Regions from separate parts of the Homo sapiens genome. Here region 1 is linked to region 2. The links come from fine-mapping of genetic effects on gene expression. A gene starts in region 2. The other region holds a variant in brackets. All regions are shown on one strand. Distances are from middle to middle.

Region 1 (8,311 bases), 120 kb after region 2:
CCTCACCTGCATGGAGAAGATGACGACGGTGAAGCAGACGGCTGTGGTGATGCCCACGGCCATGATGACTGCCTCGGTGTTGTAGAAGCTGGCGATCATCCCCACCATGTACGACAGGCTGGCGGTCAGGACCGACTGCAGTTGGGAGACACAGGCTGACCTTGGGTGTGTGCCCCCATGCCACCCCTGCCGGCCCCTGCCTCATGAGCACAAGGAGAACCACGGTGACCAGGCCCGGAAGAGTGGGCGTGTGGGACTGCATGGCCGGACCCAGGCACAGAGGCTCAGGTTTGGGGGTTACCAGTGCAACAAGGTTCCAGGGGTGCTTTCGCCGGAAGTCCCCACAACAGCTGAGGACGATGAGAGAGATGAAGAAGACAGCATAGGAGACATAGTAGGTCCAGACATTCTCCCGGACAAAGCCCTTCACCTCCGCAACAAAAGTGAACACAGACACCGTGGACAGGGTCACCGACAGCTGCAAGGTCAGCACTAGGAACACCTGGGGAAGGAGCCGCTCAGAGTCATCCGCTGGGAGCCACAGCCCCCACCGCCTTGGAGATGCCCCTACCCACCTTGCGGATGAAGGCCTGTCGGATGCTCTTGTCATCCCAGTTGGTGGCAGGGAAGTCCTGGTTGTCATAGTAGGATGGGGGACCCTCCTCCTGGTAGTTTCCATGCTGGGGTGCTGAGAAGCAGACAGGCTGGGTCAGCGCCACTCACAAGCACCTCCCCCTGCCCTCCCGGCCACCCCACCCCTCCCTTCCTGAGACTCACAGTCAGGGTCTTGTCCTGGGAAGACCTGTGGCTGTCCATAGGGGTTGGGGGGGAAGGGGCTCTGGGGATATGGCCCCTGGGGGTAGCCCCCTTGGGGGTAGGGGCCCTGTGGGTAGCCCTCTTGTGGGTAGGGGCCCTGTGGGTAGCCCCCTTGGGGGTAGGGACCCTGTGGGTAGCCCCCTTGGGGGTAGGGGCTGGGGCCATGGGGGTACCCTGGCTGACCGTAGGGGGAGGGCTGGAAAGGGGGCTGTGGGTAAGGGGCCCCAGGGTAGGGAGGCTGAGCATAGGGGGGCATGGGTGGCTGGGGCCCCCCCGGATATCCAGGGTTGGGGGGAGGATAGTTGTCCCCAGACACCAAAAAACTCTTTTCATGGGACATGGCCTCGGGTTCCGCGGTCCGCCCCTAGAGAAGACAGACAAGGAACAGTGGAACAGTTGGCTTGACGACAGCGTCGGGACCCAGCCCTGCGCAACTCCACCTGCTTCTGGGAACCCAGGGGGAAGCAAGGGAAGACCGTGACCTTTGCCCCGGGCTGTGGGGAGCCCCGGAGCCTGGGCCCGGAGAAGCGCGTGAGGACCGGACGGGCGGCGCCGTGGGGCCTTCCCAGGGCTCTAGGCCGCCTTTAGGGTGGGGGAGGGGCCGGGCGAGGGGACGACCGCCAGCCTCGGGATTTGGGGCTTGGGTCGTTTCTCACAAGCAACCGGAGGCCTGCGCCGCTGCCGGCGTCTCCCGGGTGGGAGCTCAGCGCGGAGGCTGGGGTCTCGGCCGGGGACGTGTGGGGTGTGCCCGGACCCTCCCCTCCGCATCCCGCCCCTTAAGCAGCTTTAAGGGGCCGGAGCCGGCGGCTATTTCTATCCCAGGAAATCCCCGGGCCATCTGTGACCAACAAAGGCCCGAGCCCCCCCACCCCCGCGAGCCCAACAACAGGGCCCAACGGCCCCTGGCTCCGGGGTGGGGGGATCGGGCCTGGATCGGCTGCCGGTGCCTGCCAGTGGGGTACGCCGGGAACAGCGGGGTGCGGGGGTGTGTGGGGGATGGAAGCGACCACGGGGCGTGCGGGGAACAAAGCGGGCGTGGGGCGAGGCGGGTAGGGGCTGCGGCCGTGGCACTGGCACCGAGAGCGGATGGGCCCTCCGCGGGCCGGGGGCGCACAGGGTCACGGGTCCAGCAGTCGCCGCAGCGCGCCGCCCCCTCCCTCCGGCTCCAGGCCGCCGCGGCTCCCCGCCCCCACCACCGCCGCCACCTCTGGCCGCGAGCTGCCGCGCGCCCCGGCCGGACCAACTTACTGACCCGAGGCGGCCACGCTCGGATGCGCAAGATCCGCGTGGGGGCGGGGGCGGGGGCGGCAGGCCGCGCGGCGCAGCGGGTCAGAGGCGCTCCTGGGCTCGGGCCGGGGACTCACCGGTGGCCGGGCGCCGCAGGCCGGTACGCACGGTGTCCGCTGCGCGGCCGCGCGGTGATGGCCGATGCGCCCGCACCCGCACCCGCTCGGCGGCCGCTCAGCTGGGCCTGCGCCTGCGGCTCGGAAGACGCAGCGGGGCCTTGTGACGGGGCGGGGCAGGGGGCGGGGCCGGGCGAGCTTCGGGGTGGGAGGGGCAGGTGGGCGGGGCTTCCGCGGACCCCTCCCGCTGCGCCGCCTTGCGTGTTCCTCTTCGCTCCGGCCAGAGGCCCGCCTCTCACTGTCTGCCGAGGGGTGGGGTCGGGCGGTGGGCGCTGAAGACCCCTGGAGGCAGAAGTCTGGTCTGGCCAATTTGACTGGCCGTTCGGTAGTTAAGAAATTTATTCCTAAATGCGGGATTTGCTGAAGCTGCCCGGGACTGACCGTCCGTTCTCGGCCTTAAAACCCGACGTTCACTTCTTTTCATCCAGATCTCTCCCAAATCAAGAAGCCTAATCCTTTAGTTCCCAAATCGAGGCCTCGTGGTTTAATTGCCCCATTTGCTCTGTCAGCCCAAACTCTGCCAGGCCTGCTACTAGAGACCCTTTTTTATTTTTTTAATTCTTGTGGATACATAGTAGGTGTATATTTACGGGCTACATGGGATGTTTTGATACAGGCATGCCATGGATAATAATCACATCAAGGTAAATGGGGTATCCATCAGCTCAGGCATTTTGTCCTTCGTGTTACAAACAATCCAGTTATACTCTTGGAGTTGTTTTAAAATGTACAATTATTCTTGACCACAGTCACCCTTTGTACTAACAAATACGATGTCTTGTTTTCACACTAGAGACCCTGAACGCTCGCTTGTCTGCCTAACGTCCTCACAAGCTGCGAGGGGCTGAGGCTTGGGGATGCAGCAGGACTGGAGGCCAGGCCACCTCCCTGCTTAGCTCCCAAGTCCTCTTGGGGGAGCAGTGACTGACACAGGCAGGGTACATCCTGCTGCCAGCCTTCCCACCCGGGGCCCAGACCCCACCTGCCCTCCCGCCCTTGGAGGGCCGGCCTCTCCCAGGCCGCTCTGAGTCCTGCACCTATGGTGCGCTGGCGCAGTGTTTAGCAGCCGGACCTAGTGAGGGGAAGCCTGGGGTGCGTGTTTTGCACATGCGCGTGGTGTGAATACTCCACCGGGGCTGGTTTCAAGTTACCCCCAGCTGGACAACCAGTCCACAGAAATTCCCGAAACTGTACCAGTCTGCTTGTGGTGTGAGTGGTGCCTGTGGCAGGCCCTCTGCAGCCAGGGTCGGCGTAATGGATAACCTGTGATGAGTTCCATTAGAGAAAACGTGGAAAAAGCAGGGATGGATTTACCCTTGTAGAAGGTAACTTCTACCTTTGTAGAAGCAGAAGCTCACAAAATTTGAGAGACCTTTAAGAAAAATAAAATGCTTGCTGGGCGCGGTGGCTTACGCCTGTAATCCCAGCACTTTGGGAGGCCGAGGCGGGTGGATCACAAGGTCAGGAGATGGAGACCATCCTGGCTAACACGGTGAAACCCCGTCTCTACTAAAAATACAAAAAAAAATTAGCTGGGCGTGGTGGTGTGCACCTGTAATCCCAGCTATTGGGGGGGCTGAGGCAGGAGAATGGCTTGAACCTGGGAGGCAGAGGTTACAGTGAGCTGAGATCGTGCCACCGCACTCCAGCCTGCGTAACAGAGTGTGACTCTGTCTCAAAAAATAAATAAATAAGTAAATAAAAATAAAATAGCTGGGTATGGTGGCTGGCACCAGTAATCCCAGCACTTTGGGAGGCTGAGGCAGGTGGATCATCTGAGGTCAGGAGTTTGAGACCAGTCTGCCCAATAGGGTGAAACCCTGTCTCTGCTAAAAATACAAAAATTAGCTGGGCATGGTGGTGCGTGCCTGTAATCCCAGCTACTTGGGAGGCTTAGGCAGGAGAATCCCTTGAACCCAGTGGGTGGACGTTGCAGTGAGCCGAGATCACGGCACTTCACTCCAGCCTGGGTGAAAGGGCGAAACTCCGTCTCAGAAAAAAAAAAAAAAAAGGCAGAGTAAGGGAGATCATGCCAGAGGGGTGGCCATGGGGGTTTGTGGGGAAGGTAGGGCCAAGCAGAGGGAAGGGCCAGTCCCAGGCTACTGAGGCAGGAGTGGCCTGTAGCTCTGCAGGAAGAGCTGAGAGCCTGGAGCCCTCTGAGCATCA[G/C]GGTGTGCAGGGGGCATGGGGCCAGAGAAGGGACTGAGGTCTGGTCAGGTGCAGCTGGGCAGGGGGCAGGTCCTCAAAAGGACTTTGGGTTTTTGTTTTTTTTTTAGACAGAGTCTCACTCTATCACCTTGGTTGGAGTGCAGTGGCACGATCTCAGCTCACTGCAACCTCCACCTCCCAGGTTCAAGCTATTCTCCTGACTCAGCCTCCTGAGTAGCTGAGATTATAGGCACCTGCCACCATGCCCGGCTAATTTTTATATTTTTAGTAGAGACAGGGTTTTACCATGTTGGCCAGGCTGATCTCAAACTCCTGACCTCGTGATCCACCTGCCTCAGTCTCCCAAAGTGCTGGGATTACAGGCATGAGCCACTGCGCCCGGCCCCCAGGACTTTGGTTTCTACTGTTGCTGATGCTGGGAGCTGTAGCAGCTGCTGGTGTCATTTTACAAGGCTCACCCTGACACCTCTGTTGAGGACCCACCATGGGAGTGGCAGACAGAGACTAGTTAAGAGGTTAGCCTAGCTACCTAGCGAGAGATGCTGGAGGCTGGGACCAGGGTCGGGGCAGCAGAGGTGTGGCATGTGCAGGGCTAGGAGTGCAGGCTGGCCAGGGTCCTCAGCTCCCTGGAGGGAGGAACAGCAGGGGTGGGGCTGGGTTTTGGTGGGCTGAGGGGTGAGTGGGAAGTAGGAGATGGAGAGTGGTAGTGGCCACAGCTCTTTGAAAGGCTGGAAGCAAACGGAGCTTGGGTGATGTGGGAGATCTGTGGCGAGTGGGAGTGTGGACTCTGAAGGCACCGCCCAGGTTTGAGGCCTGGTGCTGCTATGGGCCTGTCTGCACCTCCGTTTCCCTTTCTGTGGTGAGGATTAGCGGCAGCAAGGAATGCAGTGGAGCCATTACCTTGTCACCTTCTGAGGTTACTTGTGACGATGCCAATGATGGTGTGAGATGGGGAGGTGCAGGCAGGACAGAAAGCTGCAGGAATGGGCAGGCAAGACCTGAGGCGGGAGGAAGGCTGTGCTGCAATGCACATTCTTGGAGACCAAGGGTGGGGAACCGCCCATGCTCAGCACCTGGCAGGTGTGAGGGACCAGGAGCAGGGTTGAGAAGGTTGCTGGGGGCGTTGAAGGCCAGCCTTGGCCGGGGGCGGGCCTGGAGACCCAGCACTTTGTGTGCAGAGGGTGTCATGGACACAGAGGCTTGGAGATCCTGAGTGAGGGGCAGTGACTCAGGCCCCTTGGTGGGTTTAGTGGGGCGGGTGATTGGCCATTTTCAGGCCATGGAGGCCAGGGGAGTGGAGGGCCACCAGGGGACACTCCTGTCTACCCTGCCAACCAGGGGCTGGAGTGGGCCAGGTAGGGCCGGTGGGCTGGGCTGGGTTGGCTGGAGGGTCCTGAGGGGTCCAGCCTGGCCAATACCTCCTGGTCAGCTGGGGGTTGAGGCTGCAGCAGGAGAGGAAGCATCTGAGCCCCAGTACCCAGGCCTCAGCGCCCAGGGCCCAGCTGCTCCCTCCCTCCTTCCGTCTTTCAGTTTCACTTTTGTTTTCCTGCTCCCAGCAGGGTTAGGCTTGCTGAGGGGCAGGCACAGGAGTCCTGGCTGAGCTCATGGCCTGAGGCTGCCTAGCGGCCACGGGGAATGTAAGTGCTGTATGTGGGGCCACCCATAATGGGGGAGCATTGAGGACACACCTTGGAGGGGCCTGGGGAGGGGCAGGAGGGGTGGAATGGGCTGTTTCCCTACCCACCTGATGCCCCGTCCCAGGGTTGCAATGGCGGAGGCAGAGGCAGGGGTGGCAGTGGAGGTCCGTGGACTGCCCCCTGCCGTGCCCGACGAGCTGCTCACTCTCTACTTTGAAAACCGCCGACGCTCTGGAGGGGGACCTGTGTTGAGCTGGCAGAGACTGGGCTGTGGGGGCGTCCTCACCTTCAGAGAGCCTGCAGGTGAGAGGGCTGGCTGAAGGGACAGCCTGGGTGCCCTGATATTCTAATGCCTGACATCCTGCCCCGCCCCTGCCCACAGACGCCGAGAGGGTCTTGGCCCAGGCAGATCACGAACTACATGGTGCCCAGCTGAGCCTGCGGCCAGCTCCACCACGAGCCCCTGCACGCCTGCTGCTCCAAGGACTGCCCCCTGGCACCACGCCCCAGCGCTTGGAGCAGCATGTCCAGGCCTTGCTGCGGGCCTCGGGGCTCCCAGTACAGCCTTGCTGTGCCTTGGCCAGCCCCCGGCCAGACCGGGCTCTGGTCCAGTTGCCCAAGCCCCTTTCTGAGGCAGGTGAGAGGCAGGGTTGGGGTTGAGGTGCTGGCTAGGGGGGATTCCCTGAGCTGACCTGCACATACCCCACAGATGTCCGTGTCCTGGAGGAGCAGGCCCAGAATCTGGGCCTGGAGGGGACCTTGGTGTCCCTGGCCCGGGTTCCCCAGGCCCGAGCGGTGCGTGTGGTGGGGGATGGTGCCTCTGTGGACCTGCTGTTGCTGGAGTTGTACCTGGAGAATGAGCGCCGCAGTGGTGGGGGGCCCCTGGAGGACCTGCAACGCCTACCCGGGCCCCTGGGCACTGTTGCCTCCTTCCAGCAGTGGCAAGGTGAGTGGGGCTGGGCAGACCCAGCCGACCGTCCCTCTCCTGCAGAAATCTGACAGGCTTTCTGTCCTTTCCCTTCCTCCAAGTGGCAGAACGAGTGTTGCAGCAGGAGCACCGGTTGCAGGGCTCAGAGCTGAGCCTTGTCCCCCACTACGACATCCTGGAGCCCGAGGAGCTGGCTGAGAACACCAGTGGAGGGGACCACCCGTCCACCCAGGGGCCTAGGGCTACCAAGCATGCTCTCCTGAGGACCGGAGGGTTGGTGACGGCTCTGCAGGGTGCAGGGACTGTGACAATGGGCTCTGGCGAGGAACCAGGGCAGTCAGGGGCCTCTCTGAGGACAGGTCCCATGGTGCAGGGTAGAGGGATTATGACAACAGGCTCTGGCCAGGAACCAGGGCAGTCAGGGACCTCTCTGAGGACAGGTCCCATGGGGTCTCTGGGACAGGCAGAGCAAGTCAGCTCGATGCCCATGGGGTCTCTGGAACATGAGGGGCTGGTAAGCCTGAGGCCTGTGGGGTTGCAGGAACAGGAGGGGCCCATGAGCCTGGGGCCTGTGGGGTCTGCAGGCCCAGTGGAGACCTCTAAGGGGTTGCTGGGGCAGGAGGGCCTGGTGGAAATTGCCATGGACTCACCAGAGCAAGAGGGGCTGGTGGGTCCCATGGAGATCACCATGGGGTCTCTGGAGAAGGCAGGGCCTGTGAGCCCAGGATGTGTGAAGCTGGCAGGGCAGGAGGGCCTGGTGGAGATGGTGCTATTGATGGAGCCAGGGGCGATGCGCTTCCTGCAGCTCTACCATGAGGACCTTCTTGCGGGCCTGGGAGACGTCGCTCTCTTGCCACTTGAAGGACCGGATATGACTGGCTTTCGGGTGAGTGACCCCTCAGGACTCCTCACCTTCAGCCCCCTCCTCCTACTGGGGACTCAAAGTACCTTTCCTGTGCTCTAAACCTGCAAACTCCATCTCTGCAATGGCCCTGCAGCTCTGTGGAGCCCAGGCTTCCTGCCAGGCGGCTGAGGAGTTTCTGCGGAGCCTGCTGGGCAGCATTAGCTGCCATGTGTTGTGCCTGGAGCACCCGGGCAGCGCCAGGTTTCTCCTGGGCCCAGAAGGGCAGCACCTTCTCCAGGGGCTGGAGGCTCAGTTCCAGTGTGTCTTTGGGACAGAGCGCCTGGCCACAGCCACGTTGGACACAGGCCTTGAAGAGGTAGAGATGGAGTCCCACCCCTGCCCTCCCCTTTCTCACGCCTCTGCCCCAGGCCTCCTCTGCCCTTGCCCAGAGGCTAGTGGTCCTGACATCCTCTCCCTACAGGTGGACCCTACCGAGGCCCTCCCAGTGCTCCCTGGC
Region 2 (8,274 bases):
ACGCATGAGCCTGCCTGTTGGGCTCGGGGGCGGGTGCAGTGCTGACCCTCGCAGCACCAGGCGGCGACCACCTGAACGGAACTGCCAGAGCGCCAGGCTGCTGTTCATCTCCGCAACGAGCAGCAGCCTGAGGTCGGGAACCGGCAGGCAGCAGGTGGGCGCCCAACCCGGGGCCCTGCCCACCCCCTGCTCGCTCAGCCACAGCAGGCTGAGGTTGGGCCTCAGAATTGCCAGCCCCGCGGGGCCCCAGCCTACAAAACGGCCCACGGCACCCAGCGGGCCCAGCACGGTCACCAGCCCCGTAAGCCGGACAGGCGCCAGCAGCGTCTCCTGTGCCCAGCCGTCTTCCTTGTGCAGGTGCAGGCGGCCCGCGCCGTCCAGCACCACGAAGCGTCCACCCACCGGGTCCTGCGCCACCGAGCGCAGCCCGGCTGCCACCTCCAGGCGGCGCAGTGGTTCCAGCCCATGCGTCAGGCGCGCCGCGCGCAGCTCGGCTCTCTTCTCCTGTGGGCCGGGGTGGGCGGGCCCGCAATCAAAGGTTGGGGCTACTCCGGCCTAGGGGACCCCTAAGGGAAGGCCCAGATCCGGAAAGAGGCCAGGAGGCGCAGGACAGGCACACCGCACCTTTTCCACGACTTCGTGGAGGCTGGTGCGCAGAAGCAGCCACAGCCGGCGGGCGCGGGCGCGCGGGGTCAGGCTTTGCCACTGTTGGCTGCTGGTCAAAAAGGGCAGGACCTGCGACGGCTCCGTGAAAGTCAACTCTGCGGGCAGGAACTGGAAGTTCTGCCACCTACAGCCTCAGGTCCTCGACCCTGACGGTTATGGGGAGCCCTCCTCCAGGGGCCCTGCCCTACCAGGGACTGCCCAGGGGAGTTTTGTTCCAGGGGACGGAACCCAAGCCCGAATGAGACCCACTTCCTAGCGGGATGCCCGGAGGGCGAGGCCAGGCCCCCTCACCATTCTTTTCGGTGAGCAGCCCAGGGTCTGGGACATCATAGCCATCCGCATCATACAGGTCCGAGTCCAGAACTAGGTTGTAGCCTTCTGCCTCCCACACCTCTGCCTCCATTTCAGCAACTGCGGTCCCAGAGCCCAACAGCTCCCAGGACTTAGCGGTCACGGCCCGCAGCGGCAGTTGCTAGGATACCAGATGCCGCCGGCCACTCCCACACCGCAGGCCCCACCCCCACACCGCATCAGGTCCACACTAAGTCACAGAAACTTTTATTGGAAAGAAACGAGCTGCAGCAAAGTGACACTCAGTGCACGCGGCCAAATGGGCGAGGTGGGGGTACAGGTGGGCACCGGGGCCGGCCCAAGACCAGAGCCGGTGACTGCTGGGGCCTGCTCGTGGGGCCTCCGGCCACAGACCCTTTGGGCTGGAGTGTGCAGGCCCAGTAGAAATACAAAAATAAACTCTGCGGTCCAGCTGTCCCTGCTGTGGCAGTTCATTTGGGCAGGGCAGTCGCTCCTCCCACCAGGCCCCCTGCTGACAAGTCCGGCCACAGCATGGGCAGCAGGAGTCTGAGGGGTGAGTGGGCATCCACAGGATGGAGCCAAAGGGCTAGGCAGGTATGGCCTTGGGCAGTGCCAGGACTGTGGCAGCGCCAGGGTCTGGCCAGCAGCTGGGGAGGCCCCAGGGGCCTCTCAGGTGGACAGGTCCAGGCATTGGTTGAAGCTGGATGAAGCTGGGGCCTCGGCTCCTCCTCATCAAATACAGATCACTGGGACCCTGGGCGGAGGTTGGCACACAGTGGGCCTTCAGGAGCCACCACTTAGACCAAGTAGAGGAGGCCCCCACCCTGTTGTACCCACTCCAGGCTTCAAGGACCCGGGTCATGGCCCCCATCACACACCTGTCCTCCTCCATGGTGCTGGTCTCCTCGGCCCCACTGCCCCCGCTTCTGCTTTCTTCCTCCACCTCCTCCTCCCCCAGCTCCATGTCCAGCTCGTTGCCTGCCTCTGAGGGTGTGTAGGTGGAGCCACTGAGGGGAGGCAGGGAAACCAGTTTCAGGACCCCTACCCAGGCCTGCTGCTGGCCCCAGGGAGGATGTTCAGGGAGGGCAAAGCTGGGTGGAGATGGCACAGCTGGGGAAGTTGTATCGGCCCAACAGGGAGGTGGGGGAGGAGGCGGGGGGTGCCCACCTGATGGAACGGCAGCTAAAGAAGACGATTCGCTTGAGCCGCTTGTTGTAGAAGAAGTAGTTGAAGGACCAGAGGCTACCATCCTCCCCGAAGGGATCTGAGTCCAAGTCTGGGTTATAGCTGGGGAGTATAGGGTGACAGGTGGTGTGAGGCGCCAAGTGCCCCACAAACCTGGAGGCCTGGAGGCCATCTGCAGGGATGCCGGCCCACCTGTAGATGTCACATTCAGCCAGGCAGATCTCCTCGTCCACCGCGTTCCACAGCTGTGGTTTCAGATCCTTGAAGTCCTCCCGCACAGCTGAGAACAGACTGCAGTTGACTGCATTCACCACCTAGGGCAGGTCACAGTCAGGGTGACAGGAGCCCAGGGCTACCCAAAGTGGGGAAGGACAGTGGGGTGGCTGTGGGTCCCTTCCCTCCACCTGACCCTCACCCAGCTAAGGCTGGGCTCCCGGCTGAACTCATGGCTGCGGGCTGTGCTGAAGTCATAGTCAGGCCTGAAGGACTCATTGAGCGTGGCAATCAGGTAGAAGAGGGTCTTGCGGCTGCACTTGTCACTGAGGGGGCCCTCCTCCTCACCGCCTTGGCTTTTGCTGAGTCTGCACAGACAGAACCATCAGCTGGGCCCATCACCTCCCCTCAACCCCCAGCCCCAGGTAGGCCCCACCATGGCTCACCTGCTGGGGCTCAGTCCTGAAGTCTGGGGTGGAGAAAGTGCCTCCAGCACGTGGGGCTGGCCCTCCTGGCAGAACTGCTTGAACATGTGTTTGTCGTCTCCTGCCATCTTACATGAGTAGCTCTCAATCCTATAGGATGCAGAGAGAACCATGAAGCATGCTTCCCCCAGGTTCCACTGAAGGGCGCGGCAGTGTGACCTCCGAGATGCCAGCCCCCCCAGCCTGCCTCACCTGCCAATGATGTGGGCATCTCCAGTCTCCACAGTCAGCTGTGAGTTGATGGCTTCAAAGCTCGAGTTCTCCAATAGCTTCATGTCTTTGGGGAAGGAGCTCCGTGCTCCAGAGGGGCTAGTATTGCCTGGGGAGTGAGAGACCAGACCATGGGTATCTATCTGGCCCCTTGGGGCCCTGCCTTCAGCCCTCCTACCCACTAAGTGGAGCCGCTAGGAACAAGCTGAGTCTGGCCTCTGTCCAGGCTGCACATCAGGAGCTCCCCTCTCTGCCCGGCCAGGAGAGGTGACAGAGATCCTGTTTTACCTGAGGGTGGTAAGTCCAGGCTCCAGGTCAGCCATACCCCCTGCAGAACACGCGAGTTCTGGGACTAGACTAGACCACCGGGGACCCTGCTCACCCTGGGGCTGCTGGCTGAGATTGTTGCTCAACATTCCCATTCCCCATCTCCACGCCCACTCCAAAAGAGCTCCAGCCACCATGGGGGTAACTCTTGAGTCCGCAACGGGACGTGACTCCTGCAGTCTCCCTCAGGCTGGCTGGGCTCCTCAGCCAAGGTAAGAGGCTGCATCCCGGTTAGGAACCAGGACACCTGGGACTCCGGGCCCTGCGGTCACCTGGGCGGGCGCTCTTTCGTTTTGGCTACTTTCTGGCCCGGGGAGAGGAAAACTACAGGTTCCTCCACTCTACCCGGAAAAATTGCCTAGTTTCTCCAGACGCCTAGGAGGGCGGTCCCTCGGCCCCGCTGGGGCGCTGCAGTCACCAGGCAGCGCCCGCCTGGGCCACGTCGGGCACCAGCCAAGCCGCGGTGGAACTACAAATCCCAGGAGGCAGCGCGCCGCGCGAGGCCTGCTGGGGGCTGTGGTTCCGGGTACGCAGACGGCGCGGGACGCAGGGCGGACACCCACCTGCCTGGCTGGGTTAGATCAGGCCGCGCCGGGCCGGGTCTGGCTGGGCTGGGTCGCTCCGCGTCGGTGCCGGTGCGCAGGCGGGGGCGGGCTCCGCGCAGCGCGGGCTCTTCAAGATCGGAGGGCGGCGCCGCGGCCTCCGCTCGGGCCGCACTGTATCCGGGGGAAGAAGCTCCGCGGCGACGTCCCGTTACTCCCGGCCCTGCCGGCCCATCCGGGCTGCCACCGCGACATAGCCTCGCCCCCTTCCACAGAGCCCGCTCTCGCGACCGACCTGCCGCCGACCGCCACAGAGCGCTCCGGCGAGTCAGCGAGCCGAGCGAGCGAGCGAGCGACCTCCGCCTCCCCCGGCCGGACAACAACAAGCGTCCGCCGGGCCCGGCCCCGCGCCTCTGAATGGCCCGCTCCAGTCTCCGAGATCGAGAGCTCGAATAGCCATCGGGTGCCGTACCCGCCACTCAGTTCTGCCTTCTACGTCTACTGGTTATGGAGCCTGTCTGTCACTCTTCTCGTCGTACTAACCCGCTTACCCCCGGCGTTCATTGGCCGTGGCCTCTCTAGCTCCGCCCCCTAGGGGGGTCGACCCCGTAACCAGTGAGGCGCGGGCCAACCTAGTGCGACGTGTGGGCGTGGCGGGGGCTGGGGTCTGCGGGCGAAGGTGGCAGCCCATTGGAGGTCCCGGGAGCGAAGTCCAGCTGCCGTTAGGCGCTGGGATAGTCGCACGCTGGATGCATCTACGTCCGCCGAGCCCCTGGGGCGAAGAGGCCGCGTCCGCCTTCAGTTGTGGCCGGTGCTTCGCCCCCTGACCCTTCGCCCCCAAAGACCAGCTCTAACGTGAGCGCCTCGGCCGCCCTGCCCCAGCCTCGTACACGCCGCCAGCCTCGCCCAGCCGGTGTCCGGAGACCCTCGGGCCGTGTCCATTTGTGGGCAAAGCCAGCGGGGCAGGCTTGGCCAGAGTGCACCACTCGGCGCCGTCCCAGGCCCGACGCTCTGGGCGCGCCCGGAACCCCAGGTTCGCGGCCCGTGTTTCCGACCGGCGGAGGGGGCTCAGCGGCCCGATCCCACGGAAGCGCGCTCGGAGGGGTGGGACCCGGCCGGACCGGAGATGGCGCCGCCAGCGGGCGGGGCGGCGGCGGCGGCCTCGGACTTGGGCTCCGCCGCAGTGCTCTTGGCTGTGCACGCCGCGGTGAGGCCGCTGGGCGCCGGGCCAGACGCCGAGGCACAGCTGCGGAGGCTGCAGCTGAGCGCGGACCCTGAGCGGCCTGGGCGCTTCCGGCTGGAGCTGCTGGGCGCGGGACCTGGGGCGGTGAGTGGGGGCGGAGGGCGCGCGGTCAGTCCTCTTGGCCCGGGCAGGGCACGGAGCCCAAAGTTAGGCCCCTCCGCTTGCCACCTGGGTGCCCTTAAGCAGTTATGTTTCTTTGCTTCTGTTTTCTCGTCCGTGAAATGGGGGTGACGCTCGGACCTACTGGGACCTACCTGGACCTACTTTACAGGGCTATTGTGAGGATTTGATGATAGGCGTACAGGGCTTAGGACCGTGTAAATGGTCTATAAATGTTACCTTGTATTTCTTTGCTCCTCGTGCGATGTAGGGCGGGGGGACGCCCTGAGCCTGGACTCTCCCTCTTCTCAGGTTAATTTGGAGTGGCCCCTGGAGTCAGTTTCCTACACCATCCGAGGCCCCACCCAGCACGAGCTACAGCCTCCACCAGGAGGGCCTGGAACCCTCAGCCTGCACTTCCTCAACCCTCAGGAAGCTCAGCGGTGGGCAGTCCTAGTCCGAGGTGCCACCGTGGAAGGACAGAATGGTCAGTGCCCTGTAATGGATACAATTACAATTTGGAATAGCCTTGGCCCCCCAGTCCTGGTTGGGGAAGTTGGATCCACCTTCCCCACTGCTGGATGTCTGGGAAGGCTTCCAGGAGGGAGTAGGTGGAGCCTGGAGTAGCTTGGAGTACTTGGAGTGGCTGCTGGAGTCAGTCTCCTACACCATCTGAGGCCCCAGCCAGCACAAGTTGCAGCCTCCACCAGGAAGCCCTGGAACCTCAGCCTGCACTTCCTTAACCCTCAGGAAGGATGAGAGGCAAGCATGAAGAGGCAGAGCAGGCAGGGTCAGGACCTGTGTGAGAAGACATCATCCCAAGAGCAGCAGGAGAGTGACAGGAGTGGGAGAGTGACAGACTCAGATACCTCCTGCTTAAGACAGAGTTCTGCAGTGGCAAGGGTTGGTGCAGATAGGGTTGGGGAGAAGGATGTTTCTAGAGATGCTTAGAAGATGGAATTAGTGGCCGGGTGGGGTGGCTCACGCCTGTAATTCCAGCACTTTGGGAGGCCGAGGTGGGTGATCACCTGATGTCAGGAGTTTGAGACCAGCCTGGTCAGCAAGGTGAAACCCTGTCTCTACTAAAAATACAAAAATTAGCCAGGCGTGGTGGCGTGTGCCTGTAGTCCCAGCTACTTGGGGAGGCTGAGGCAGGAGAATCACTTGAACCCGGAGGCAGAGGTTGCAGTGAGCTGAGATCTTGCCACTGCACTCCAGCCTGGGTGACAGAGCAAGACTCCATCTCAAAAAAAAAAAAAAAAGAAGATGGAATTAGCTGAGTTTCATGGCTGCTTGGGAGGTTTTTTGCAGACAAAGACTCCCTCTCTCACCCAGACTGGAGTGCAGTAGCGTGACCCTAACTCACTGGAGCCTTGAACTCCTGGTCTACGGTGATCCTCCTGCTTCAGCCTAAGTAGCTGTTATTGGCATGAGCCACTGCCCCTGGCTCACATGGCTGCTTAAATGGAAGAGTTAGCAGTTGAGACTGAGAAACATGAAGGACTAGGTAGTATGGGGCTCCCAGATAGAGGGCAGCCCACAAACGAGATAAGCAGAGCTGCCAGAGGGGTAGGAAGACAGCCAGACAGTGATGTAAGAGAGACTCAAGCAACTCAGGGTTTATAAAAGGAGCTAAGCTCTCTTTAGTCATTCACCAAGCATATGTATTCAGCAGCTGCCCTGTCCCAGGTACTCCTTTGGCATGAACAAAACCTCCCATCCCCATCCTATTGGAGCTTGCATTTTTAGAGGGGAGGAGGCAGACATATAAAATAAGTACAGGGCTGGGCAACATACAAAAAATTTAAAAATTAGCTGAGTGGGCCGGGCACGGTGGCTCACACCTGTAATCACAGCACTTTGGGAGGCCGATGTGGGCAGATCATGAGGTTAAGAGATCGAGACCATCCTGGCTAACACGGTGAAACCCTGACTACTAAAAAAAAAAAAAAAAAAAAAAAATTAGCTGGGTGTGGTGGTGGGGACCTATAGTCCCAGCTACTCGGGAGGCTGAGGCAGGAGAAGGGCGTGAACCCAGGAGGTGGAGCTTGCAGTGAGCCGAGATTGCACCACTGCACTCCAGCCTGGGCAACAGAGCGAGACTCCATCTCACAAAAAAAAAAAAAAAAAAAAATTAGCTGAGTGTAGTCGTGTCTGCCTGTAATCCCAGCTATTCGGGAGGTTGAGATGGGAGGATCACTTGAGCCCAGGGGTTCTAGGCTGCAGTGAGCTGTGATCGTGCCACTGCACTCCAGCCTGGGTGACAGAGCGAGATCCTGTCTCCAAAAAAAAAAACAAAAATAATAAAATTACTGTAGAGTTTTTTAAAAAAGAAAGTCTGTTAGATGGTGTGGGAATGAGAATGGTGGAGCTGGGAGGATTGCTGTTTAAAACGGTGGCAGGGGCCGGGCGCGGTGGCTCACGCCTATCATCCCAGCACTTTGGGAGGCCGAGGTGGGCAGATCACCTGAGGTCGGGAGTTCAAGACCAGTCTGACCAACATGGAGAAATCCCGTCTCTACTAAAAATACAAAATTAGCCGGGCGTGGTGGTGCATGCCTGTGATCCCAGCTACTCAGGAGGCTGAGGCAGGAGAATCGCCTGAACCCAGGAGGCGGAGGTTGCGGTGAGCCGAGATCACACCACTGCACTCCAGCCTGGGCAACGAGTGAAACTCCGTCTCAAAAAAAAAAAAAAGTGGTGGCAGGGAAGGCCTCATTGAGGTGACACTGGAGTGAAATTTGAAGGTCATGGCATGAACCATGTGACCAAGGAAGCAGCAAACAAACCCTGAGGTGAGCATGTATAAGTGATCCTTGAGGTTCAGTGGGGGCCGGGGCCGGGGCCGGGGCCAGGAACAGCGCTGGGTGCGTGGAAGGCCCTGCTTATCCTAGTAGGGAGATGGTAGAATATAGTGGGCCTGAGACCACGGGAGCTGTGTCAGCACTGGATGGGGACCCCCCCATTGCAGTGGGCTGGGCCTCACAGGGCG

The links.
Region 1: its variant is fine-mapped to the expression of SHARPIN in whole blood (INTERVAL, PIP 0.96).

What each region holds. Positions count from the first base shown.
Region 1 is chr8:143,984,069-143,992,379 of GRCh38, reverse strand. It overlaps PARP10 (poly(ADP-ribose) polymerase family member 10), which reads left to right and starts at 5,920. Exons shown (of 11, transcript NM_032789.5): 1 at 5,920-6,022; 2 at 6,147-6,325; 3 at 6,405-6,659; 4 at 6,732-6,968; 5 at 7,052-7,836; 6 at 7,949-8,170; 7 at 8,276-8,311. The coding sequence starts at 6,021. GRINA (glutamate ionotropic receptor NMDA type subunit associated protein 1) reads right to left here and starts at 2,324. Exons shown (of 7, transcript NM_001009184.2): 1 at 2,181-2,324; 2 at 778-1,180; 3 at 576-688; 4 at 302-502; 5 at 7-135. The coding sequence starts at 1,156. RefSeq lists enhancers at 78-579, 5,244-6,147, 5,818-6,257 and silencers at 1,243-1,292, 1,125-1,419, 1,343-1,602, 1,733-1,872, 1,893-2,392. The variant G/C (reference allele first, on the strand shown) is at 4,386.
Region 2 is chr8:144,100,546-144,108,819 of GRCh38, reverse strand. SHARPIN (SHANK associated RH domain interactor) reads left to right here and starts at 5,047. Exons shown (of 9, transcript NM_030974.4): 1 at 5,047-5,267; 2 at 5,595-5,769. The coding sequence starts at 5,067. It overlaps MAF1 (MAF1 negative regulator of RNA polymerase III), which reads right to left and starts at 4,359. Exons shown (of 8, transcript NM_032272.5): 1 at 3,962-4,359; 2 at 3,054-3,180; 3 at 2,823-2,951; 4 at 2,579-2,744; 5 at 2,356-2,477; 6 at 2,146-2,265; 7 at 1,857-1,985; 8 at 1,209-1,732. The coding sequence starts at 3,136. The coding sequence ends at 1,711. It overlaps WDR97 (WD repeat domain 97), which reads right to left and starts at 1,081. Exons shown (of 24, transcript NM_001316309.2): 1 at 958-1,081; 2 at 625-761; 3 at 1-504. The coding sequence starts at 1,069. RefSeq lists enhancers at 1-138, 3,760-4,054, 4,806-4,855 and silencers at 3,916-4,155, 4,916-5,195, 5,206-5,305.